7 linked regions of the Homo sapiens genome follow. The protein of the gene in region 5 interacts with the protein of the main gene of each other region in a biochemical or structural test. Each region holds a gene or a part of one and is shown on either strand. Other genes may lie near its edges.

What was found.
Region 1: the proteins of RAF1 (region 5) and RRAS2 form a complex in vitro, tested with the Homo sapiens proteins (one study listed by BioGRID).
Region 2: the proteins of RAF1 (region 5) and GNG4 form a complex in vitro, tested with the Homo sapiens proteins (one study listed by BioGRID).
Region 3: the proteins of RAF1 (region 5) and RANBP9 form a complex in vitro, tested with the Homo sapiens proteins (one study listed by BioGRID).
Region 4: the proteins of RAF1 (region 5) and BIRC2 form a complex in vitro, tested with the Homo sapiens proteins (one study listed by BioGRID).
Region 6: the proteins of RAF1 (region 5) and CDC25A form a complex in vitro, tested with the Homo sapiens proteins (one study listed by BioGRID).
Region 7: of the proteins of RAF1 (region 5) and MBP, one has a biochemical effect on the other in vitro, tested with the Homo sapiens proteins (one study listed by BioGRID).

What each region holds. Positions count from the first base shown.
Region 1 is NC_000011.10:14,296,684-14,300,183, reverse strand, and holds part of RRAS2 (ras-related protein R-Ras2), read left to right. Parts: intron 1-3,500. UniProt on the Homo sapiens protein: GTP-binding protein with GTPase activity, involved in the regulation of MAPK signaling pathway and thereby controlling multiple cellular processes. Regulates craniofacial development.
Region 2 is NC_000001.11:235,587,285-235,590,784, forward strand, and holds part of GNG4 (guanine nucleotide-binding protein G(I)/G(S)/G(O) subunit gamma-4), read right to left. Parts: intron 1,784-3,500; exon of another isoform or gene 1,713-1,783; intron 1-1,712. UniProt on the Homo sapiens protein: Guanine nucleotide-binding proteins (G proteins) are involved as a modulator or transducer in various transmembrane signaling systems.
Region 3 is NC_000006.12:13,642,336-13,645,835, forward strand, and holds part of RANBP9 (ran-binding protein 9), read right to left. Parts: intron 2,395-3,500; coding exon 2,210-2,394; intron 257-2,209; coding exon 144-256; intron 1-143. UniProt on the Homo sapiens protein: May act as scaffolding protein, and as adapter protein to couple membrane receptors to intracellular signaling pathways. Acts as a mediator of cell spreading and actin cytoskeleton rearrangement.
Region 4 is NC_000011.10:102,374,714-102,378,213, forward strand, and holds part of BIRC2 (baculoviral IAP repeat-containing protein 2), read left to right. Parts: intron 1-2,782; coding exon 2,783-3,037; intron 3,038-3,143; coding exon 3,144-3,185; intron 3,186-3,276; coding exon 3,277-3,470; 3' UTR 3,471-3,500. UniProt on the Homo sapiens protein: Multi-functional protein which regulates not only caspases and apoptosis, but also modulates inflammatory signaling and immunity, mitogenic kinase signaling, and cell proliferation, as well as cell invasion and metastasis.
Region 5 is NC_000003.12:12,598,118-12,601,617, forward strand, and holds part of RAF1 (RAF proto-oncogene serine/threonine-protein kinase), read right to left. Parts: intron 2,299-3,500; coding exon 2,271-2,298; intron 2,163-2,270; coding exon 2,035-2,162; intron 1,692-2,034; coding exon 1,574-1,691; intron 1,109-1,573; exon of another isoform or gene 996-1,108; intron 1-995. UniProt on the Homo sapiens protein: Serine/threonine-protein kinase that acts as a regulatory link between the membrane-associated Ras GTPases and the MAPK/ERK cascade, and this critical regulatory link functions as a switch determining cell fate decisions including proliferation, differentiation, apoptosis, survival and oncogenic transformation.
Region 6 is NC_000003.12:48,171,418-48,174,917, reverse strand, and holds part of CDC25A (M-phase inducer phosphatase 1), read left to right. Parts: intron 1-460; coding exon 461-634; intron 635-3,500. UniProt on the Homo sapiens protein: Tyrosine protein phosphatase which functions as a dosage-dependent inducer of mitotic progression. Directly dephosphorylates CDK1 and stimulates its kinase activity. Also dephosphorylates CDK2 in complex with cyclin-E, in vitro.
Region 7 is NC_000018.10:76,986,284-76,989,783, reverse strand, and holds part of MBP (Golli-MBP), read left to right. Parts: intron 1-871; coding exon 872-907; intron 908-1,256; coding exon 1,257-1,289; coding exon of another isoform or gene 1,290-1,694; exon of another isoform or gene 1,695-2,081; intron 2,082-3,500. UniProt on the Homo sapiens protein: The classic group of MBP isoforms (isoform 4-isoform 14) are with PLP the most abundant protein components of the myelin membrane in the CNS. They have a role in both its formation and stabilization.

The sequences.
Region 1 (3,500 bases), on a different chromosome or scaffold from region 5:
AGGAAACATGTGCTCTCTCCATCCTCCACCCTTCCTTTCCCCTCAGTGTACTCTTTTGAGCCCTTGGGTCCACCCTTCTTCCCTATCCTTGCCTGAACCTTTACTGTCTAGCTCAGTGCAATACTGTGCTTGCTTTTTTTTCCTCTTTTTTTCTCTTTCTGCTACAGAACATCCTTTCTGGGCTGTGGTTGGTAACTTTTTATAATTTCAGGAGAGAGACTGTTTTCTTTTCTGGCAAATTGCTGAGGCTGTGTTGATAAGTGAACGCATACATAGTTCTGTACATAACTGTAGTATTAACTGTCTAACTTCTCTTGCCTTCTGAACAAGCATGGTATTGGCACTTCATGCTGTTTGTTTTTTGGCTTGGGTATAGACTTAAAATGCCCCAATCCTTCTCTTGCCCCCAGTAATACCTCAACTACTGGTGGTTGTATAAAAGGCACTGGACTCTGAAGATAGAGACCTTGTCTTTATGGAGTATCTTTATGGAGTACTTAGTAGGTGCTTCATACATGATCACTGAACAAATGAGTGAGTGAAATCAAGAGAGCAAGGACAATTGGCTGAAGGGTTTCAAGTAGTGGGAATGAGGCTTTGCATGGTGAACAACACAGATCAAACTGGATGGCTTTGCATACTACATAAAACCTGGAGGGCTTTGCATAGCATGTAAAGAAACTATGGAATCCTGTAAGCAGCAGGGAGCCATTTAATTTATATGTTCTCTAGAGGTATAATTCATATATGTACAAAAAAGTGTACAGATCTTAAGTGTACAGCCTGATGGGTTTTTACTTATGTAAATTAACTGTGTAGTTGCTGCTCAGATCCAGAGACTATTTCCAGAACCCCAGCTTTTGTCTTGATTCACAACGTTTGGATACCAAATCCCAGAGGTCGTGTGGTTGGTCTGAAGTGTAACTAGGACTGGAATTATTACAGCTACTCCTGAGCTTAGCAAATCTTTATACTTGAGTAAAAAACACTAATTCAGACCATTTAACTGCATGACAAAAACAATAGTTATTATTATGGTTGACATTTATTAATCAGCATGCCTTGGCACTTCATATGCATTATTTCATTTTACCTGCTTCACAGGATTTTGTTCCTGTCTCTGTTTTACAGATGCTGAAGATTAGACATGTAAAGTGATTTGCCTTAGGTCCCACAGCTAGGGAATAGCAGAGTTAGAATTAAACCCACGACACTTCATCACGGGGACTGATTACTTATTGGTGATCTGTTGCCTCAAATATCTGGTACCCAAGTTTAACAAAAATGTTGCCTTTTTGGTGAGAGGTGATGCCTGTATTTGTTACCTGCACACAGTGAATGCTCTTAGGGATATTCTGACCTATGGATTCTTAGAATTTTGAGAGGGAAAGAGGTTTTTGATTCTATGATAGGCAGTTCCCAGAGTGATGTTTCGTTGGAGGAGGATTGTTTCAATGTGGATGGCTCTTTACAATTTACGTGTAGCCAGTAGATGATGGTCTCTGTAGACAAAGTATGAAGATAGGACACAGCAAAGATTGGGTGTGAACCTAAATATCCAAAAATCCCAACAATGAATTTGTCTTAAAAATTAATATGAGTGGAAATAAATGCATGTAGCAGTATGGCAAAATTCTTGTAATACTAAGATTGTGTTTCAAGAGTTAAGACATCCAAAGAAATGTCCATAGCGAGTAGAGGTAAAACAGTTTATTATACTGGACTTCAAAGTTGCAACAATCTTTTATATAACAATCAAACCAACAATCTTTTGTGCATGTTAATATCTTAATCTCACAACGCCAAGAACTGTCACATTTAAAGAATTCTAGCTATTGTGCATGGCTTGGCATTTGTAAAAAATGTATTTAACATTTGTTTATTATATTTTAGGCCAAATCAGTAGGGACAGTGTAGCACTTTTAGGCATCAGCTGGGAGTAGTCAGTGAAATTCAGGTTTTACAAGATATAAAAGCATGGCATATGGGGAAACATGTTTCAAGAAATGAATCTTAAAAAGTACAGCGCATGCTTTATCCAATTTGCTTGTGAAAGACTGCTGATTCCTGTTGTTTAAAATAGTGGGTGTAGAGAATATTGTTGCCAGTAAAATTTATTTACTTTTTGAAGTGGCATGGGTGCCAAAAAGTAAGTTCATGATTGTTTTGATACCTGCTTTTTTTTTTTTTTAAGGCTAGTTAAGTGAATTGATACCTGTTTATTTTTAAATGGTGATGGAGTGGTGGAGGAGATGGCTTCCTACTAAAAGTTACTGCTGTTGGTGAACATTTCTTTTACAGACTTTGTTCAATACATCATGCATTGAAGTGAAACATCAAAAAACAAATAGGATTATAGATATGGAATTCTGTGATTAAAGTTAAACATTTTAATTTTAATTTAAAAAAAATTTTTTTAAGAGACAGGGTGTTATTCTGTCTTCCAGGCTGGAGCGCAGTGTGGCATGATCATACCTCACTGTAACCTCGAACTCCTGGGCTCAAGCAGTTCTTCTGTCTCAGCCTCCGGAGTAACTAGGACTACAGGTGTACACCACCACATCTGGCTAAGTCTTAAATTTTTCGTGGAGATGCGGTCTCACCTTGTTGCCCAGGCTAGTCTGGAACTCCTGGGCTCAAGTAATTTTCACAAAGTGTTAGGATTACAGGCATGAGCCACCATGCCTGGCTTTAAAGTTATTCTTAAGACTTAAATAAAATGTGGAAAGTGTCCTTCAAAAAAAATATGTAAAGTCATGGTATCAGGCAGATTAATATATCTCCTCCCAAAACCAGGGGATTCTTTTCTGTCCTCTTCAAGAGTGCTTGTTTCTGAGTAGCTCTCTGGTGTTTGCATAGGTCGCCACGAATGTTGGGTCCCAAGAGCCAGGAACCCTTGCCTGAAGAAGGCTAAATACTCTTGATGCTGGTTCCTAGCATTAAGCTGTCTCCTTCCAAATCATTCCTTCAGATTTTGTAATGAGCCAGTGGGAAAATGGGCTTTGAGGAAGTCAGTCCAAAGTAGATCAAAGGAGATACTCAGAACAAATGGAGGATGATGTTGGTGTCCTGGTTAGTGCCCTTCTGTAAGAAGAGGGAAATGCACTCTCTCAGATTATTGTTGTTATCTTTTTTAAACCTTTTTCTTTTTTGGAGACAGGGTCTCATCCTGTCACCAAGGCTAGAGTGCAGAGTGGTATGATCATGGCTCACTGCAGCCTTGACCTTCTGGGCTCAGGTGATCCTTTCACCTCAGCCTCCTGAGTAGCTGATTTTTTAAAACCCTTTTAAATAAAACTGAAATGTAGGCTGAGATTCTTCCCTTCTTACTTGGATACTTTAACTGTCCCCCCCCTTTTTTTTATGGTAATGACTTCGGTAGTTGGGAGGGTTTGATCAGAGAAGAGAGGAATAGAATTTAAGATAAAAAAACAACAAAAGATGTCAGTGAAAGAGTAAGTTTGAGGTTCCTACTAATGAAAAAATTTCAAAATGATATT
Region 2 (3,500 bases), on a different chromosome or scaffold from region 5:
TGGGTTGGGGTGTGTGTGAGGGTGAGGGGTGTGTGTGTGTGAGAGTGTGAGAGCATGTATGAGGGTCAGGGGTGGGGTGTGTGTGAGTGTGTGTGTGAGCACGTGTGTGAGCATGTATGAGGGTGAGGGGTGGGGGTGTGTGTGTGAGGGTGGGTGAGCGTGTGTGAGGGTACAGGGTGGGGGGTGAGTGTGAGAGTGTGGATGGGGGGTGGGGGTGTGTGAATGTGAGGTGGGTGTGTTGTGGGTGTGTGTCAGGGTGTGGGTTGGGGTTGTGAATGTGGGAGGGTGTGGGGTGGCGGTGAGTGTGAGTGTGGGAGGGCATGGGGTGGGGTGTGTGAATGTGGGGTGGAGTGTGAGTGTGGGAGGGTGTTGGGTGTGTGTGTGACTGTGGGGTATGTGTGCGAGTGTTGGGTGTCTGTGTGTGAGGGTGTGTGTGGGTGTGGGTCAGGGTTCAGGGTGGGGGTGAGGGTGAGTGTGGGAGAGTGTGGGGTGGGGGTGTGTGTGTGTGTGAAGGTGAGAGTGTGAATACAGGCACGTCTCAGAGCATGCGGGGTGAACGTGTGTGTAAGTGTATGGAGTGTGTGAGAGGGTGTGGGGGGTGTGTTTGTGTCTGGAGTGTGAGTGTGTGGGTATAAGTGTGAGTCCTTGAGGATGTGTGCACATGTGCACAGGTGGGTCATGTGGCGGGGAGGGAACAGCTAACGTTACCGGGGAAAGCAGCAGAGCCGACTCTCAGTCCCGTCAGGCCCCTGCAGCTGCGCCCACCTCTCTCCCTCCCAGGCGCTGTTCAGACGGCCCTGATCCCTCAGCCCTTCCTCATTCTTCCGCTGTTCAAAAGAAGGGCTCGTTTTCCACATGCCCTACCCTCTCCGCAGAGGAGAGTTCTGGCTGGAGGCTTCCTGTGGGAAGGTCCCACCAGCGCACTGTGCTTTCCTTGTTGTGCGCTGGAGATAAAATAAGCGGGTGGGTGACCCTCTGGGGGTTCCATCCCTCCATGGCCTCCCTCTCAGGCCCTCCATGTGCGTCCACTCTCCAGCCCATGTCTGCCACCCACAGCCGAGGCCCCTGGACCTGGCCCCCAGCGGGGGCTGTGCTCTCCGACCCCAGCTTCTCCCTCAGCCCCTTCTCTGCTGCTTCCTCCTCCCCTGGCTCCATACTTAGCCTCAACAGCATGACCCAACTACCACCACTGTCTCCCAAGAGCCGTCTGCTTCTCTGGCCCTTTCCTCTGTCCCTAAAACCTGCTTCGGTATGGACCCAACTCCTCCCCTCTCCACACTCACGAAGGGGCTGCTCAGCGCTGCTGGAGAGACCCCCCCCACTAAACTCTGCCCATCAGACATCCACAATCCAGCCTCTGCGAGGCCCTCAGAGCTACCTGGCAATAGGACTCCTTGCCCCAAATCATCTCCCCCTCCCTTCATCCTCTTCTTCCAGTCTTCATCACTTCCTCATCACCTCTGACCTTTCCTCCTCAGCAGAGGACCTCAGCCCCTCTGTCTACACAGAATGGCCATTAGCAGAGAACCCTCCTTAATGTTCCCCACCCCACCTACTCCACTCCACACCCACATCCATCCTTGCCTCCACTCAGGGCAGCAGCTCTTCCTCCACAGCAGAGCCTGTAGGACACCACCCACAGCTGCTCCCGACTTGCTGCCCTGCCGGCAGGGCCCTCCTTCCTCCCCAGGGGCTGACAATGGCAGACTCACTTTCTTGCCTCCCTTGCTGTAAGGCCAGAGCACGCGTGTCAGGAACATGGCTGTGCTTTGGTCAAGGATAGGCTGAGGTAAACATCCAGAGTGACTCAGCAAGTTTAGAGCGCAGGCGTATAACTCCACTTGTCATCACAGCCATATAGCCATAACATCGGAAGGCTCATCATTTGGCTCTAAGCCACTGTTGTTTGTAAAAGCTATTATTGCCCTGCTGACACTGTACAGGCATGCTGGCGCCCAGAGAAAGAGCCAAAGCTGTCCATTTTGCAGGTAGACAGGGGGAGCCAGGGCACAGCACAGTTCAGCTCGTGCCCAGAGAGAGAAAGAGTTAAGCTGCTGACCCCGAAGGCAGGGGAGAGTCGGCCATGCAGCTATGTGTGGGAGCTGGCTGCTGAGAGGAGCCACAAAGCCAGAGCAGACAGCTGAGTCAAGGCGGACAGTGTGAGAGAGCTGGTATGAGTCAGCTGCTGAGAGACCTGTTGAGTAAAACTACATTTCACCTGCTTATGGCCCCACGAGTGTTCCTTCAGCTACCTGCCCATCCGCCCACTCCCCTCGAACCTCAGCATGGGCTGGAACCTGACCCCAAGCAGGGCATTTGGTATAGTTGTGAACCTGACAACGTGACCTTGTCCTCCTCAATGGGACATCAGGGGAAATCTGCAGGGACTCATAGGGAGGGTTTTCCTCCCCGACGGAGGGACAAGGGGAGAAAGCTCTGTCTTTGGCCACCTTGAGTTGTGTTTGCAGCTGCCAGAGCCATAAAACCACTGGGGAATCAACCAAGGACACGGTCACTAGTCTAGTGGAGAAAATGACCTGGATCCTTGAGCTGGGTGGGTCCTTGGAAGTCTATTCCTGATCCTTGAAATGAGATAATGTACTCCTCATGGTTCAGGCCATATTTGTTGGGTCATCTGTCACTTGCAGCTGAAGGCATCTTCTCAGCCAAGGCTAACACTTCACAGGTCAGTAGACCGCTCCCCTCCCCAAGGGATCTGCCCTACACTCACCCCTCCATCCTGTAATGTCCACGTCTCTGGCGCTTTTCCTCCTCAGAATATGCAAATATATTTATGCAATCTGCACCTGACCATCTTAAAACAAGCAACAACATCAACAGTCTTCCCTCCCTGCAATCTTCTGCATTCTTGCTTAAGAAGGTGGAGAGGCTGGGTGTGGTGGCTCATGCCTGTAATTCCAGCACTTTGGGAGGCCGAGGTGGGTGGATCACCTGAGGTTAGGAGTTTGAGACCAGCCTGACCAATATGGTGAAATCCCCTCTTTACTAAAAATACAAAAATTAGCCAGGCATGGTGGTGGGTGCCTGTAGTCCCAGCTACTTGGGAGGCTGAGACAGGAGAATTGCTTGAACCTGGAAGGCAGAGATTGCAGTGAGCCGAGATTGCGCCACTGCACTCCAGCCTGGGTGACAGAGTGAGACTGTCTGGAAAAAAAAAGAAGGTGGAGAGGTAACCACAGATTCCCCTGAGAGGCCCCTCAGTAACTAAAGGAAGAGATTCTAATGTAAGGATGAAAAGCCGTCTTTCGGGAGCACTGGGTAAACAGGCCTGCTCCACGGTCTCTGCTCTGCTGCCCTCGGCTCACCCTGATTCTGTGTCTAGGACAGTCACCCTTGTTGCCCAGAGTGATCCTTAAGCGATTTCATGTGTGCGTGTTTGTGTTTTCTCTCTCCAAGGGGCTGCTCTGGCTTCTCCCAGCACTGTGGCCCTGCACACCTGGACGTCCGTATTTTACAATCTCCCAGGCTGATTCTGGCCC
Region 3 (3,500 bases), on a different chromosome or scaffold from region 5:
AGTGAAAATAAAATTCAGAGGCATCCATTTTAAATTAATATATTTGAAATTTTTTTAATTAAAAAAACAAAATTTCTAAAAATTAAAGTAACCAAATCTATAATCTGAAAACAAATGTTAGCCATGCACCACAGTGTCCTTACTTTGTCTATTCTTAATGGAAGCTAATTCTTCTAGAACGGTCTGGTCTGTAGATCTGGCAAAGGCCTCTGCTGTGGCACAGTACCCATGGTGGACTAAATAAGATGAAACCATTCTTAAAATAAAAAGAAGAAACATACATCTTTTAGTGAAGAGAATACATGCTTCATACTACAATTTATATAAACAAAATCTATTCTGGTGTTATAAAAACGAACCTATTTCCTTGAAACAAGGCGTTAAGAACCTCACCTTTAAAGTAAGCTTTTGAAAAACATCATTTTGTTCTATTCATGTACTATTTTCGAAAAGATAACTGCAAATGCTATGTTGAGACTACTCTCCCTAAAATAAATATTACTTGAGAATCAAGGACATTAAATGACCTTTTCTTTGATTCTTGGACTCTCATTACCCCCAGGTCCCTTCCTATCTTATTATTCAGCCCTACTAACCATAATTTCTATTTTGACTTTATCATATGACTTATTCCAGTATTGCTGGCATTCTGTAAAATAACCAACTTTAAAATAAAAGATTAACTCTTAATGTTCCAGAGTTCAACCATCTTCTTTACACACCGGTTAAATGAAGTGGGATCACAAAGTATGTACAGAATACTAAGGTGAATCCAGAGAGACAATCTTCCAGAACATGTCTATAAGTGTACTACTAATTAAAGGAGGAATCAGCCTTCTAATCTAAATCAATTACTATGGTTTTACCCAAGAGATTTATCAAATATGGTTTACATGTAAGTGACACATTTCCAAGACAATAATCTTTTAAAAACGTACCAGGTAGTCAAAACATATACTTACATCTACCCACAAGATGTGGTTAGAAAAACTGGTGATGCAACAATATTAACCCAAATATCTGTTATCTCCAAACAGTCAATTTTTAAACTTGCCTCCACCTGACACTACTAAGGGCCAGTTAGAAAATCGTGGGAAGCAGTGGTTCACCACAGGAGGAGACTGAGGCAAAGAGCGGAGGGAGAAAAGGGAGGAAAATGTCTAAGAAACAGATCTGCATCTTATTTTACCCAATTGTTCAAATTAATTTAAGGGGGAGGGGACCTTTTAGAATGGACTTCTCAAGAGTTCATGGTGAACATCAAGTCAGTGAAGAAGTGGGTGGAAGGATCCTGGTTATAAGGTTAAGATAAATGTTTTCTACTATCTTGCCATGATACTCAGTGGTAACCATTTTCAGAGCATTAAAACAGTGTGGCCCCAGAACAACCCATTCTAGCTTCACTTCGTGGTGACTATAGGATTCTGCATCAGGGTTGTCTATTCTCAACTGGGCTGGACAAAAAAACTAGTGTCCAATCTCTGTAATACAGATGATAATAGCTCCAGGGACGAAGTGTGATTTCAGAGTCATCATCATGTCTCCCAATCACTTCCTTTTCTAAAAAATACCCCCAACATTTTATTACAATTTTAAAGTTAAGAATATTCAAAGCAATTATAAGGACATTAAAGATGAAATGTGTTGGACCAACTGTATCTGAAAGTCTGCTATTTTCTTGACCTGGATTATAATAGTGAAGAGGACTTTTTAAATTTAATGGTATTTATTTAAATTTTAAGTCCATACTTAACTACTGCTGATAGTTCAGATATTAAGAGCTTGGACATAGCCAAGTTCATGACCAAAAACCACAGATCCTGATTATAAGATCTAGATTATCTCTCAACTTTATCTTTTCCATTAACATTATTAAAAGTTAAATTGTATAACCTACAGAAATCATTAAATCCTATTACTAAGAATAGCAAATGAATTAACCTAGCCTAGGTGACCTAACATCATTTTATTTCCTTCATCAAATTAATTCAGACTGAAATACAATTCTGTACGTGTGTCAAACAATTGTTTTTAATTTGTTTAAATAGTGGAGTAAATTACTTTTCGTTGAGAGATTAAAATCAATAATATAATAGATATGTCAGTATATAAATTAGTGGATTAAAAAGCTTCTGTGGATACCAACAGAATAAATGTCTTATAAAAAACAGATTCTGAATAGCATCAATTGAAATTTCTTCACTCTTACTTTTGTATCATGGTCTGCCATTCTCCTTCTCGATCTCCGATAGGAAATCGATCTATCTGTGCCTGGATTTTGGTTCTCCACTCCCGCATATAGTCTTCTATATCAAACACGAAAGGATGTTGCCCAAAATTGGCATCGACCACTTCTCCTGGTGTTTGAAGCCCCACAGTAGGATACAAATTTGGCTGTAAGATAGCATATTTCATTAAACATCTATCCATTTTATGTTAGATTTAATAATTCTTTTAATGTTACATTTAAAAGAATAGAACTATAAATTTACTTCATATTTTAAAATCCCAATCAAAATATTAGAAGGCTAAAACAAATGATCTAAAATACATTATATGTTAGATGAAAAAATATCACTTCCTGCAATGTAATCATCAAGAAAAAACAAAGAGACCCAAGATCTCTGTTTTATTTATTCAGGGACTACGTTGTATTATACCACGTGGTATTATGCTACTAATATATGTGCATGTAATTCTTGTTCTAAGATTATGTCATATAGTAGTTACAGAAATTCAACTATAAACACATAACTCAGGTTTATCCCACATTTTATATATGATACATTTCTATAAACTGCATGTTAAAGCTAGTTATCATAAAAGTATGATCTCAGCTAGTCTGGCATTTAATAGCTTAAATTTACTGTTTTCATTCTGTATATTTGGGATGCCTAACTTTACAAAGGGAAGGGGATAAGACCATAACTATAAGCAAAACACAGTGCCAGGAAGAGTGGAGATTCTCTATATTAAAAAAAAAACACAAAACCTCAAATATATGTATTTCAAGGGAGGAAAAGGATGAATCTGAATATACCCAAACTCAGAAATGCATTCAGGTACACTCCATGGTTTCAAGGTTAATCAAGATGAAAAGGTGATAACTTCAAGTAAACAAAAAATACAGGGGTCATTCTTTTGGCTATGTCACTAATTGGTTGTTACATCTAAAGGCAGAATGAGTTTCTGAGTGGCTACTAAATGCCAGGGTTTAATCATAATTCTGTGAGGCCACTATTATTATTTCTACTTCAAAGACAGAGAAAATGAGGATTCAAGGTTAAATAACTTGCTCATGGTCGTTCTGCTAACAAATGGCAGAGATGGAATTGGAACACAAGTTTGTCTGATACCACATCCAAAACTGATTTTTCCTCTTGCAACTCCAAATCCTACCATATTTTCATTTTCTGTATTTATGTCTTATATCTTTAATAGTTATAACAAGTATTTTTCAGTACAAAACAAGGTAAAGATCAAGAGCGGATAATTTCTGT
Region 4 (3,500 bases), on a different chromosome or scaffold from region 5:
TGCTTTGTTTACCTAATCAAGCCTGGGCAATGGCGGGCGCCCCTCCCCCAGCCTCGCTGCTGCCTTGCAGTTTGATCTCAGACTGCTGTGCTAGCAATCAGCGAGACTCCGTGGGCGTAGGACCCTCCGAGCCAGGTGTGGGATATAATCTCTTGGTTCGCCGTTTTTTAAGCCAGTCTGAAAAGCGCAATATTCGGGTGGGAGTGACCCGATTTTCCAGGTGCGTCCGTTACCCCTTTCTTTGACTCGGAAAGGGAACTCCTTGACCCCTTGGGCTTCCCAAGTGTGGCAATGCCTTGCCCTGCTTCGGTTTGCACACGGTGCGCGCACCCACTGGCCTGCGCCCACTGTCTGGCACTCCCTAGTGAGATGAACCCGGTACCTCAGATGGAAATGCAGAAATCACCCGTCTTGTGCGTCGCTCACGCTGGGAGCTGTACACCGGAGCTGTTCCTATTCGGCCATCTTGGCTCCTCCCCTCCTTCAATAAATATTTGTTGAGCATGAGCACCAGTGCCAAATACTGTGCCTAATCACAGTGGTTGCTGTCAAGGAGTATATACACTAGCTGGCGAGACTAGTGTGCAAAAGACAGGGTTAAAGGGCCAGCAGAGAGGCGAAGGTTGCATATGTATTGGAGTATTGCGTTGGAAGATGCTTTCTTTTTAAGCTTGTAAGTAAAGACAGGAATAACTTAAGAGTACCTTATTGCATGACCGTGTAGCAAAATATTTAAAGTCTGGACTTCTACATTGAAACAGATTTGTGTTTAAATTCTAGCTCCAGGCTGGGCGCGGTGGCTCATGCCTGTAATCCCAGCACTTTGGGAGGCCAAGACGGGCGGATCACAAGGTCAGGAAATTGAGACCATCCTGGCTAACACGATGAAACCCCGTCTTGACTAAAAATACAAAAAATTAGCCGGGCATGGTGGCGGATGCCTGTAGTCCCAGCTATTCGGGAGGCTGAGGCAGGAGAATGGCGTGAACCCGGGAGGCAGAGCTTGCAGTGAGCCGAGATCGTGCCCCTGCACTCCAGCCTGGGTGACAGAGCCAGACTCCATCTCAAAAAAAAAAAAAAAAAAATTCCAGTTCTATCAGTTACTAGCTTGGCTATTTATTCAACCAGACATCGGCTTTCTCATCTGTAAAATGGGGATAATAATAGTATGACTCCCATAGGGTTGCTGTAGGAATTAAATGAGATATTGCAAATAAAACACTTTAACACAGCTCCTAGCACGTCAATTTTTTTTTTTTTTTAAGCATTAGGTAGATTGACTTGGGAAGTGGGAGGGACTTGGTGAAAGAAAGGGCCTAAGAAAAGTCAATTTAAGGATTGTTAAGTAGTAATGAAATCCAGCTAAGGTTATATGAAATCACTGTCACCTTAGATTTATGACTTTCTCATACTTTGTATGGGTTGGAAAATAGTATTGAATTACAGATTTGGCAGTGTTAATAGGGGAAAGGGCAAGTAAGGAATACGGAAGATGAGTTAAGGGTGCTAATATAGAGAACTTCATTGAAATACCTGACTGCTACCTAGATTAGAATAGGAGGTTTGAAGCAAAGCCAGGAGATAGCTCTTGTGCAAGTAGAATTGGGAATGACATGGAGATCTTGAAAAGGTGAAGAACAAATTGGTTAGCAGTGAGAGGAATTATTTAGGTAGAAGAAAAAGTTGTCACAGAATGGAATTTTATAGTTTTGAGATTAATAGAGCAGTTCACTTCTAGAGAGATGTAAAAGGGGAAAGAAGATAGGCTTCTGTTTTTATAATTTATTTCTCATTAAACTGGTACTTTGTAGAGATGTACTTTTTAAATTTTTTTGAAAGTCTGAAAATAGACAAATTTTATAATGATTCAGATACCAAAAGAAGGAACTACCATATTCCATAAATATAAATTAACTGTGGAGTTTTATGTGATGCGATATTAAAGGAAAAACATTGGCTTTTTAAAAAAAGGTCAGGCTTGATTCTTAGGTAGTTTTTTTTAATTGCTATAAACATAGACATTTATAAAATAATAATGGTAGTTAACTATGTACCACATATTGTGCCAGATGCTTTACATGTATTATTCAATCCTTACAACTTTGAGGAAGGTACCGTTATGTATATTTTACAGATGAGGAAACTGAGGTGTATGGGGAAGGATGAGGACACATAGCTAGTGAGTGGGCCTAGCCAACACTGGAACCTAGGTCTGTTTTGACTTGGCAACTCAAACCCTACAATACTACAATACCACGTCTTAAGTATGGGGTGTTGAAAAGAACACTGGTCTAGGATGCCTGGTTCTGCAGCTTATTCTTTCTTGTGATCTTAGGCCACTCATTCTTTTCTGAGTCTTTTTTCTCCCTATGTAAAAATGAGAGGCAGTAATACTCGCCTTGTTTAATTGACAGGATCACTGTATCAAATGAGACAAATTACTATGAAAGTGCTTACAAAAGTAAAATGATATAATGGAAATACAAGAGTATTATTATATATGGTGGGGGGAAATTTTTACTGTCTTCTACAAATCTCTTGCAACAAAATAAAGTAAAAGCGGAGTTCTAGGACATGTAAATATATAGACTTAAAAATTAAACAGAGACTTCCTCTGGAAGTTTTCCAAACAACAAACTTACAAATGCAAACAAGTTACTTTGTTCTTTTTTGAACTTTATTTAGTGCCTAAATTGTTTGTAGGGTTGGTTATTAGTGACTATATGAGTATAGTTAAAGGAGTTTAAAATCTAATGGATTTCTTTTTCTTTTTTTAATGAAGATGATTTGTCATTAATTCGGAAGAACAGAATGGCTCTCTTTCAACAATTGACATGTGTGCTTCCTATCCTGGATAATCTTTTAAAGGCCAATGTAATTAATAAACAGGAACATGATATTATTAAACAAAAAACACAGATACCTTTACAAGCGAGAGAACTGATTGATACCATTTTGGTTAAAGGAAATGCTGCGGCCAACATCTTCAAAAACTGTCTAAAAGAAATTGACTCTACATTGTATAAGAACTTATTTGGTGAGTTTGTTGGGAAAATTATTTTAGAAATTCTTAGGACTGGCCAGATGCGGTGGCTCAGTTTTGTATTTAGTAGAGTAATGGTTTTTATGTTTTCTTTCCTCAGTGGATAAGAATATGAAGTATATTCCAACAGAAGATGTTTCAGGTAAAACAAAGATTTAAAACCAACATGAACTATTACCCTTTTTTTTTAATGAAGTGGAAACAATTTCACTAAAGTTATTTTTTGTTATTAGGTCTGTCACTGGAAGAACAATTGAGGAGGTTGCAAGAAGAACGAACTTGTAAAGTGTGTATGGACAAAGAAGTTTCTGTTGTATTTATTCCTTGTGGTCATCTGGTAGTATGCCAGGAATGTGCCCCTTCTCTAAGAAAATGCCCTATTTGCAGGGGTATAATCAAGGGTACTGTTCGTACATTTCTCTCTTAAAGAAAAATAGTCTATATTTTAACCTGCATA
Region 5 (3,500 bases):
AAGCAATCTTCCTGCCTCAGCCTTCCAAGTAGCTGGGACTACAGGCGAGTGCCATCACATCTACCTAATTTTTGGTAGAGATGGGGTTTCACGATGTTGCCCAAGCTGTTCTTGAACTCCTAGGCTCAAGTGTTCTGCCTGCCTCAGCCTCCCAAAGTGCTGGGATGACAGGCGTGAGCCACCCTGCCCAGCCAGATGCAATTTTCAAAGGAAAAGGAATCATTCCACATGTACTTTACAAATGTTCAGTCGGGTGCCAATCCTCTTAAGGAACTAGAAATTGGTCAGATGATTAATTACAAGTGGTAAAAACCATGCATTAACGAGCACATGGTAAGGCTGGGCACAGTGGCTCATGCCTGTAATCCCAGCATTTTGAGAGACCCAAGAGGACTGCTTGAGTCCAGGAGTTGGAGACCAGCCTGGGCAACATAGTGAGACCTTGTCTCTACAAAAGGTAAAACAAATTAGCTGGGCATTCACCTGTGGTCCCAGCTACTTGGGAGGCTTAGGCAGGAGGACTGTTTGAGCCCAAGAGTTGGAGGCTGCAGTGAGCTGTGATTGTGCCACTGTACTCCAGCCTGGGCAACAGAGCAAGAATCTATCTCAAAAAAAAAAAAAAAAAAAAAAAAAAAACCACCAAGTACTCAAAACTGGAGGTGTTTGATATTTTCAGTACCTTGAATTTTAATACTCCATTCATTTGATGCTTTTAACTTCTCTCAATCTTTGCACATTTATCTCTAAAGATAATTCCAGTGTCATCCAAAGTAGTATAGGCACCAAGGGACTCTGTGATTTTTGCTTTATTGTAATCTGAATTTAGAAGAGATGACTTTTTGGGAACATGCAGCATTTTCAAGGAAATACCTATTATTTCCCAAAGTCCTAAAGCCAGAGGCATTAAAAACCTAACAGAGAAATGCTAAGTATGTTGCCAAAATGTTCAGTGTTGCCAAAATACACAAGCTGTAACTACATAAGTTAAATAGTACCTTTCTTCCAAGTGACAAAGTGTTTCCATTAAAATCAGAACATTAATATTCCACATAGATTCAAGAATTAAGTCAATGCCTTCCCTGTTTGATAGGGACACCCACAGCTAATCCTAGGGCAGGACAAAGAGAAGTTACTTCAGGAGATTTCCAGCTTTCCTATGCCTAACTGCATGACCATGGGCAAATCAGTCCCCATTTCAATCTCTAAGGTCCTTTCCAGCTTAAAGTTTCTAGAACCCATGCTCCCTCCATAGCAGCAGACTCTTGCTCACTTAAGGAGCTTCCAAGCATGACCCATGTGCAGACTGTATTTAATCAGTTTAAAGGAGAAGTACTCCTGACATTTGATTATAGGGCTCAAGTCTTATTCACTAATTTCTAATTATCCTGGGAGCTTTATAAGAACTTAGTCTAAAAAGAATTAAGTTCAATCTTCAGGTATAATCAAGTATGTAAGGGAGAGTACTGCTATAAGCCCAGGAGCACTCAGTCCTCTCCTCCTCCTGGCCCCCTGGGCTGAAACTTGACTTCACACCAAAGCCCTGCAGTTAGTAAAGGGAGGGCCCCAAGCTTACCGTGCCATTTACCCTTATAAACAGTTCCAAAAGAGCCTGACCCAATCCGAGTGGACAGCATCACTTCACTGGCTTCTATTTCCCAATAATAGCTTGAATCTCTCTGTCCACGAGGCCTCTGAAACAAGTAGAGATCATTATTATACTCCATGCAATGGTAATAATCTTTTGATAATGAGGGCATCAAAGGATCAACCCATGTCATCTGTTTCCATATCTTTTAAAGATAAACATATTAACCATACTTCCAATTTTTGTCTTTTGAGAAATACCATTTTAGTTATAGCACTGGCAAACTGTCTGATGCAAGTGTGCCAAAAATGACAGTAACATTTATAATCTCCTTCATTGAATGTATTTTATTAGAATCTTCTCCCAAAATAAGTTTAAGTATTCTAATTTCCAACGAGGTTTTTCTTACTGAACCCTAATTGGCAGGAGGTACTGTTGTCTATACTCACAATTTTGTTTTTCTCCTGGGTCCCAGATACTGGTGCCCGCTCTCTTTGTGCTGGCACGGGGGTTTTCGGCTGTGACCAGCCTGTTGGGCTCAGATTGTTGGGGCTACTGGACAGGGCTGAAGGTGAGGCTTAATAGACAAGACAAACAGAAGCCACACAAGGATAAGCCAACAGAAGATACACCGCATAAAGAAAAAAAGCCCATTATTGTTGGCTAAATGACTATGGAAAAGTACCTGATTCGCTGTGACTTCGAATTGCATCCTGAAACAGAAAAGGAAAGCTGGTCAACTCCTACACACAAAAGATTTTCTCTGGGGGAGGGAAAAAAGAGGAGGAGGATGTGCAAGAACAAAATAGATTATAAAAACCTCTAAAAACCATAGAAATCCTAAACATACTCTAATCAACGTTCCTTGATTAAATTCAGCAAATATCAGTGGCCAGTATCTCCAAGGCTGATTTTTCATTAAATATTAGAAGGATTTAATATTCCACCTCCCAGGTTCAAGCAATTCTCCTGCCTCAGTCTCCCGAGTAGCTGGGATTACAGGTGTGCACCAGCACGCCCGGCTAATTTTTGCATTTTTAGTAGAGACAGGGCTTCGCCATGTTGGCCAGGCTCGTCTTGAACTCCTGACCTGAGGTGATCCTCTCGCCTCGGCCTCCCAAAGTGCTGGGATTACAGGCGTGAGCCACCGTGCCAAGCCTGGTATTAGTTTTTCATATATAATGAAAACCACATTCTTTTTCTCAAAAGAAAGCAATGTACACAACAAACATACTCTTTCAAGGGAAGCTAGCAAAGTTACTCTCAGCTGAGACCCTTCCAAAGATTGGGATTCTTGTTCCACTGAGGCTCAAAACTTTTTTTAAAAAGCCAGGGTGGGGAGGTGGATTCTGGGGGAAGCTCACTCTTACTCCACAAGGAGTTAGGCTAAATTGACTAGAAGTTGGATTTGAAAAAGGTAAGCAGCCTATATACTTTATCCAAGCCTAAAATCACAGAAAGCTGGAAAGACCACAAATCCAAGTTCAAAACCTACATTTTACATATAAGAAAACACATCTGAACAGGTAGAGAGACTTGGCAGGGTCACTTGGCAGAACCAGTAGGTGGCAGAAATAGAACCAGAAACCATCATATATGGATCTCAGCCCTCAGCTCTTTCACCACAAAACACTGCCTTATGGGTAAATTTGGAAATCGGTTACATTCTCCTCATGGGAGAAAGCAAAGGCTATCTTTAGAATTTATTAGAAACTGTTTGGAAAATAGTTTAAATTGCAGAGGGCTCTATGAGACCTAAACCCCAATCTAAAATTCATCGCTTGGAATAGAACAGTATAATAGAATAATATAAAACCACTTGGCCCCCATATCCTAAAAAAGGACATTTTTTGGGGGGAAGTCCTACTATATTCTCTTTGTGTAACTACAGTATAGACAAGATACTTGTTCCACA
Region 6 (3,500 bases), about 36 Mb from region 5:
ATACCTTAACCAAAGATGCCCCCATTTTTATTATAACCTGGCTACTGTGCATCTTTTCTGGATTTAAGTGGGGTATTTAAACCCGTTGACCTGCTTAATTAAGCAAGGTGCAAGTAATAAAATGGAGGGGAAGATAGGCAAGCCAAAAATGTGTTCCTGACTGGAAGGTCACACTTCTCTTGACGCAGGATTATGTAGACAGTTTTTGTGAGGGCAAAGGACGTTTTGCTCATCTCTATATAATGTCAGCTGAGTATATATTCATTGAGCACTAAGTGCTCAGTGCCTACTATGTGCCAGGCCCTGTGAGAGTTGCTAGGACTAGATGAATCGGCAGTGTCTGTTGGCTAATTTAGAATTGATCTTAGATCATCCCAGGAAACCTTCGGTTTATTTGTCTTACCATTCAAGTGAACAGGTTTTAATGAAAGATGGGTCTGTCTGTTTTTTTTCCTGTAAGGACAACCGATGCAAGCTGTTTGACTCCCCTTCCCTGTGTAGCTCCAGCACTCGGTCAGTGTTGAAGAGACCAGAACGATCTCAAGAGGAGTCTCCACCTGGAAGTACAAAGAGGAGGAAGAGCATGTCTGGGGCCAGCCCCAAAGAGTCAACTAATCCAGAGAAGGCCCATGAGGTTAGTTTCCTAGGTTCCTTTTTGCTCTAGCACAGATACTGTATTTTTCAGTTCTAAAAATTTCTACTTAGTGGTTCATTTATTTTCTTTGCTAAGATTTGCTGGGGTTTTGTGGGGTTGTGTGTGTGTGTGGGTGTGTGTGTGTTTCTTTTAATAGAGATGGGATCTAGCGATGTTGCCCACGCTGGTCCTGAACTCCTAGCCTCAAGTGATCCTCCTGCCTTGGCCTCCCAAAGCACTGGGATTACAAGTGTGAGCCACCACACCTGGCTGATACTTGGCTGTTTTCATGTTGGTTTTTCATTTGCTTTGAGTATGTTCATAATTGCCTGTTGAAGCATTTTTAAGATGGCTGCTTTAAAATCTTTGTAAGACAAATCCAACATCCATCCATAGTGTTGTTGGCATCTGTTGATTGTCTTTTCCTGTTCAAGTTGGGATTTTTCTGGTTCTTGGTATGACCGGTGATTCTTCCATTGTCTCCTGTATATTTGTGAGTCTCCGGTCTATGTAAATTTTACGTTTTAGCAGGCTTCCTCTGATACTGCAAGAAAGGCATGGGTGGAAGTCCGGGTTCCCCAGCACAAACTCCATTGACACCTTGGGTGGGGACTTGTCTCATTATTGCTGGGAGGGAGTGGAAGTTCATTCCATCCCCGTGGGGTGGTGACTGGGGCACTGTATGACAGCTGGGCAAAGGTGGAGGCCCCCGCTTGCTGTTGGCCATAATTGTTTCTGTGTTGACTAGTAGAATGATTATTGTCTAAAAGTCTTCTGCCTCAATAGGCCATCCTTTGCCTAGGGAGAGCAGGCTTTTCTTGGGGCTTGTTGTGTTGCTGTCTCCAGCTTCATGAGTTGAATGGTTAACTCATTCGTTTTTAATTTTCTTATTTCTGGATAAATCTATTTGAATCTATGAATTTCCCACTGCTTTAGATTTGTCTCATAACTTTTGACCTGAAATGTTTTTATTATCATTTGTTGTAGATATTTTATTTCCTTTTAATCCAGACCTATCATGGCCTATTAAATACTTGATTTTTATAAAGGTCTGTCTTTTTTTTTTTTTTTTTTGAGACGCTCTGTCGCCCAGGCTGGAGTGCAGTGGCGCGATCTCAGCTCACTGCAAGCTCTGCCTCCCGGGTTCATGCCATTCTCCTGCTTCAGCCTCCCAGTAGCTGGGACTACAGGACCCCGCCACCACGCCTGGCTAATTTTTTGTATTTTTAGTAGAGACGGGGTTTCACAGTGTTAGCTAGGATGGTCTCCATCTCCTGACCTTGTGATCCGCCCGCCTCAGCCTCCTAAAGTGCTGGAATTACAGGCGTGAGCCACTGCGCCCAGCCCTGTCTGTCTAATTCTTCAAGTTAATTCATTGCATTGCTCATAGTTGTATAGGCTGTTTTGTTGTTTCCTGTTTCTGAGACAGGGTCTCTCTGTCACCCAGGCTGGAGTGCAGTGGCATGATCTCCGCTCACTGCACTCTCCACCTCCCAGGCTCAAGCAGTCCTCCCACCTCAGGCTCTCAAGCAGCTGGGACTATAGGTGTGTGCCACCAAACCCAGCTAATTTTTGTATTTTTTGTAGAGACAGGCTTTCGCCATGTTGCGCAGGCTGGTCTCAAACTCCTGGGCTCAGGGCAATCCTCCCGCCTTGGCCTCCCAAAGTGCCAGGATCATAGGTGTTAGACACAGCACCTGGCATGGGTGAGCTAGTGTCATGGTTGTCTGGGCCTAAGTCCTATGGTCCTTTGTGTTATTTTTTCTATTTATTCTGTGGCTAGACACACAAAACACTGGTTTATTTGTATGTTTTTCCTTCATTATACTGTCCTTATATTGAGGTTTGGTATTAAGCATTATAAAATGGTGAACTACCTGTGTTTTCTGTGGCATGAAAAGGTTTAAGTAAATCTCATCACAGTCTTAAAAGGTTAGAGAGATGACAGCTAGGAAAACATTTAGCATTTAGGCCTACTGCCTTATCGTATCTGCTTTTGTTTTTAATGCTTTATGAATGTTTTTAAAGTATTGTTCTAAAAGAATATTTTAATAATTGCATAGTATTTTTGTTTTGGGAGAGTTGTTTGGTTTTGGTTTTTGTTCTTTTTGTTTGTGGGGGGCACAGGGTCTAGCGCTGTCACTCAGGCTGGAGTGCACTAGCACGATCACAGCTCAGTACAGCCTCCATGGGCTCAAGCACTCCTCCCGCCTCAGCCCCCCTAGCAGCTGGGACTACAGGCATGCACCACCATGCCCAGTTAATTTAAAAAAAATTTTTTTTTATTTTTTGTAGAAAAGAGGTCTTACTGTGTTGCCCAGGCTGGCCTTGAATTCCTGGGCTCAAGCAGTCCTCCCACCTCAGCCTCCAAAGTATCTGGGACTACAGGCACAGGCCAGTGCACCTGGCCGATAGTGTTTTGACTTACAAGTATACTAGAAATAATTGAATAAATCACCTTCTGGACATTTAGAATTTCCCTTCCCCTGATTTTCCTTTTATTTCTAATTAAAAATGAAATTCTGGGTTATAAGGGCAAGAACATTTGTGAAACTTTACATTGTATACATGTCAGAAAATATCTATCAATATTTAATAATATTCTGGCTGAGTGCTGTGGTTCACTCCTGTAATCCCAGCACTTTGGGAGGACAAGGCGGGTGGATCACGAGGTCAGGAGTTCCATACCAGCCTGGCCAATATGGTGAAACCCTGTCTCTACTGAAAATACAAAAAATAGCTGGGTGTGGTGGTATGAGCCTGTAATCCCAGCTGCTCAGGAGGCTGAGGCAGGAGAATCGCTTGAACCCGGGAAATGGAGGTTGCAGTGAGCAGAGATCACGCCACTGCACTCCAGCCTGGGTGA
Region 7 (3,500 bases), on a different chromosome or scaffold from region 5:
GCGCTTCCCGACTGTATCTGCCACGGATTGCACCGTGCGCTCCGTGCGTTCTCCAGAGAGCTCACTTCTCTTGAGATTAGGCTCCCATGTAACGCTTAGCCTAAAAACACAGGCTTTGCAACCTATGGAGAGTGCTTGCCATGGGCTGGGAGCGGAGGGGGCAGCAGAGAGAGCACAGGGCATTTTTAGGGCATTTTTCGGGCAGCGAAACCGCTCTGTCGAGGCTGCCATGGTGACTGAAGACCACGCACTTGTCCAAACCCACAGCGTGCACAGCACCGAGAGAGCCCTAAGGCAGTGTTGCTAATAAGGGAAACTGTTCGGGGTATGTGGAAACTAATTTCTGCACAGTTTTTCTGTAAACCGAAAAGTGCCATGCAAAACGAAGACGATTAAAAACAAGAACAAAACCACAGGCTTCTAATTCCAAGATCTCAGTGCAGCAGACATTTTATGCTCGTATTCGATAAGTGCACTTAGGAGCTGCAGACCTGGGGACATCCCCTTGGAAGCTCTGAATGTCAGAGGGCCCGCTACTCCTAGCCCCGGAAAGGGCTCACGGTGAAGCAAAGTCCGCCGCCTCCCTCAGTGTCCCAAGATGGGCCCATTCCCCAGCTACGGAGCCTCTGGGAGGTGTTTTCCATCCTCTGAAACACTTCCTGAGTGCTCTGGGAGATCTGCATCATCTAGAATATTTTCAATCTCAGGTCTATACTTCTTCACCAACTAGGACAGAAGTGGGGAGGCTGGGCACCCGGGTGCTTCTGGCAGCTGATGGATGCTAGCCACCCTCAGCAGGCAGGAGCCCGTTAGGAAATGGACGGCGGCACAGGGCTCCCAGTGCAGCCCACGGTTCTCTGTGTCTTTCCAGGTGACGCCTCGCACACCACCCCCGTCGCAGGGAAAGGTAAGACCTTGGAATGTTTTGATTGATCATCACTTTTCTGATAGACCTTCTCTAAAATCCCATAATGTACCAAAGAGAGAGTTAGGCTCCGAGCTACCAGAATCCATCCCAAAACGTGTTGCCAGGCAGCTCCCAAGTAGAACAGGTCGGCAGATCCATGCACCCCTCCTGTCCCTCCCGCACCTGCACAGCCGCTGTGGCCCTGAGCCTGCGGCCCCCCTCGGAGCTCCGGGTGGAACCTGTTTTTACCACCTCAGCTCCACTGTGCTTTGACTGTGTTTCCTGTTGATTGAAAGGACTTTCCCTTCACTGACCACCATGTCATTATTTCTCTGTCTTCCTCATGCAGGGGAGAGGACTGTCCCTGAGCAGATTTAGCTGGGTAGGTGACGAACGCACTTCCATCGGCTTCCTCTTCCGTCCCAGTCCTCACAGCCCCGCAACTTTTGTGTTCTGCTCTGTTTCGGTTGCTTCCTGGCCTCCTTTTCTCTCCTCTCGAGACCTCTCTGCCCACAGCTGGGATCGGGCCGCCTTGTCTTCCACTGGGGAAATGAAACGTGGTCTTCCCTTCCGGAAGGTCTGGTCTCTTGCTTCTGTGCCGGGGACCCAGCCCTGCAAGGCCAGATCCTCTTCTCCCAGAGGGTTCCCAGGCGACGTGACTGGTCTCCCTCCCAGGGAGGGAGCAACACCACGTCCGAGAAAATGTTTAACTTCCTCCAACACAACCAGTGCGAGAAGCCCCAGGAACCCGCATGTGGAAGTGGGACTGGCTGGCCCGTCTCAGTGACCCCAGATGCTGACACTGGGAAAATGATTCTGCTGATGAACAGAAAAAGAGGCTAAATAGAGTTGCTCGATTTATAATAACCTCATTAATCCAAAGATTTTTGTTTTGTATGTGTTTAAATAATAATTAAAACATAGATATCAAGCCATCCAGAAAATCTTCCTTAGGAATTTTAGGCTGGTTAATACTGAAAGCAAACTTTCAAGGAAGGTTTAAAATGGCCAATTTGAACTTTCTAGTGAAAAAATTTGGTGTCTGAGCCAAATTAAAATGCCAATCATTATATTCTAACCAAACTTACAGACTTTAGTTACTAGCAAATACCAGATATGATTCTTACTGTATAAAAGTTATAATTTTAGAATAAAATGGAGGAATAACCACCAACGTATTGTAGATAGGTTGTGTCTGTCTCCGAAACTGCAATGCTCTCATACGCTAGAACAGAGCCTACCTACACTTTCTGCTCAATTAATAAGCATCATATAAATGAATGAATACATTTTAAAAGAAAAACAACAAGGAGAAAGAACAGGAAGAAAGAACAGGGAAAGAAAACAGAAGGTGGGGAAGAGGAAGGAAGAGAGGGAGGAAGGGGCAGGGTACTTGAGAGACCATGAGGATCCCAGATCAGTCCCACACATGATTACACTGAATTATGAACTAAGATATTTACCGAAACGTTTTCCATTAATGCATATTTGACTTGCTTTTTCTGACCTAATGAATTTGCAAAACGATGACAATCATGTAGCAAATGTACATGGACTAGTACTCACAATTAATTTTTTATTTTCTATGCCAGCAGGAGACAAAGATGATAGAAGAATGAAATTCATTTTTGACCCAGAAATCTTATTTTAGCTACTGCTTTATCTGCTCTTAATTTTCTAGGAGTGGACTTTGGGGCCGTCGTGCCGGATCCTCCCTGAATGTGGAGCGATGGGGGGTTGCACACAGGCCGTTCTGCCCCAGCAGCTAACAAGAAAGACCCTTGCATTCCTCCCTGCATCTCTCCCTTTTGGGTCCTACTAATGTCTGTTGAATTTCTCTTTTTTCCAAAGCAAAATCCTTCTCTGCATTTTGTCTGCTTGTCTGTTTCCCAGAGCCGCAGGACTCTCTCCTTGTCTGGAGTTCCAGAGAGCCCCCACTTTCTCTTTCTAAGCTGTGTTGTGTGTTTCCTGGTACATTCTAGGTTCCCCAAAGATAAACATGACTAAGGATTGGAAAGGAGGAAAGGCCGCGCAGATTGTTAATCTGAAAGTCAATCCCCGGATTTAGCTCTCAAAAATGCTTTATTTTTGGAGAAAAGCAATAGAGTAAGACAGAAGGACTTAACGCTTGCAGGGAAGTGGCTTTCTGCCATGTAGAGCCAGGCTGGCAACCTGCCCTCTGCCATCAGGGAGTGAGCATGAACCTGGAAACCTCTAGGACGCAAGAGCGAGGCTGGCTGTCCCCTCGTGTGCAGTGCTTAGACCTTCTTGCCACACATCCCGTCCCTCACCTCACTGGATAGCCCCCGAATCAACTGTTCACACGAAAGCAGCTGCCTGGTTCTGAGTGGCCATGCTCACTCCCAAGCACAGGCTGAATGAAAAGAAAACTGTGCAAGTAGCTTGTATGGTGGGAAGCCCCCAGCAGAGGCTGAGGGTGCAGCCAGGTGCTCTGGAAGCCTTGAGGCCTCTGGTGTCATCTTCCTCACCTCTAAATAAGAGATGGGCTAGGTTGGTCAAGGTCCTCCCTGTCCTAAAACACTTTAATGAAATGGAAGAAAGGCTGCAGGCTGATAGAGGAGGGACAGTCTGG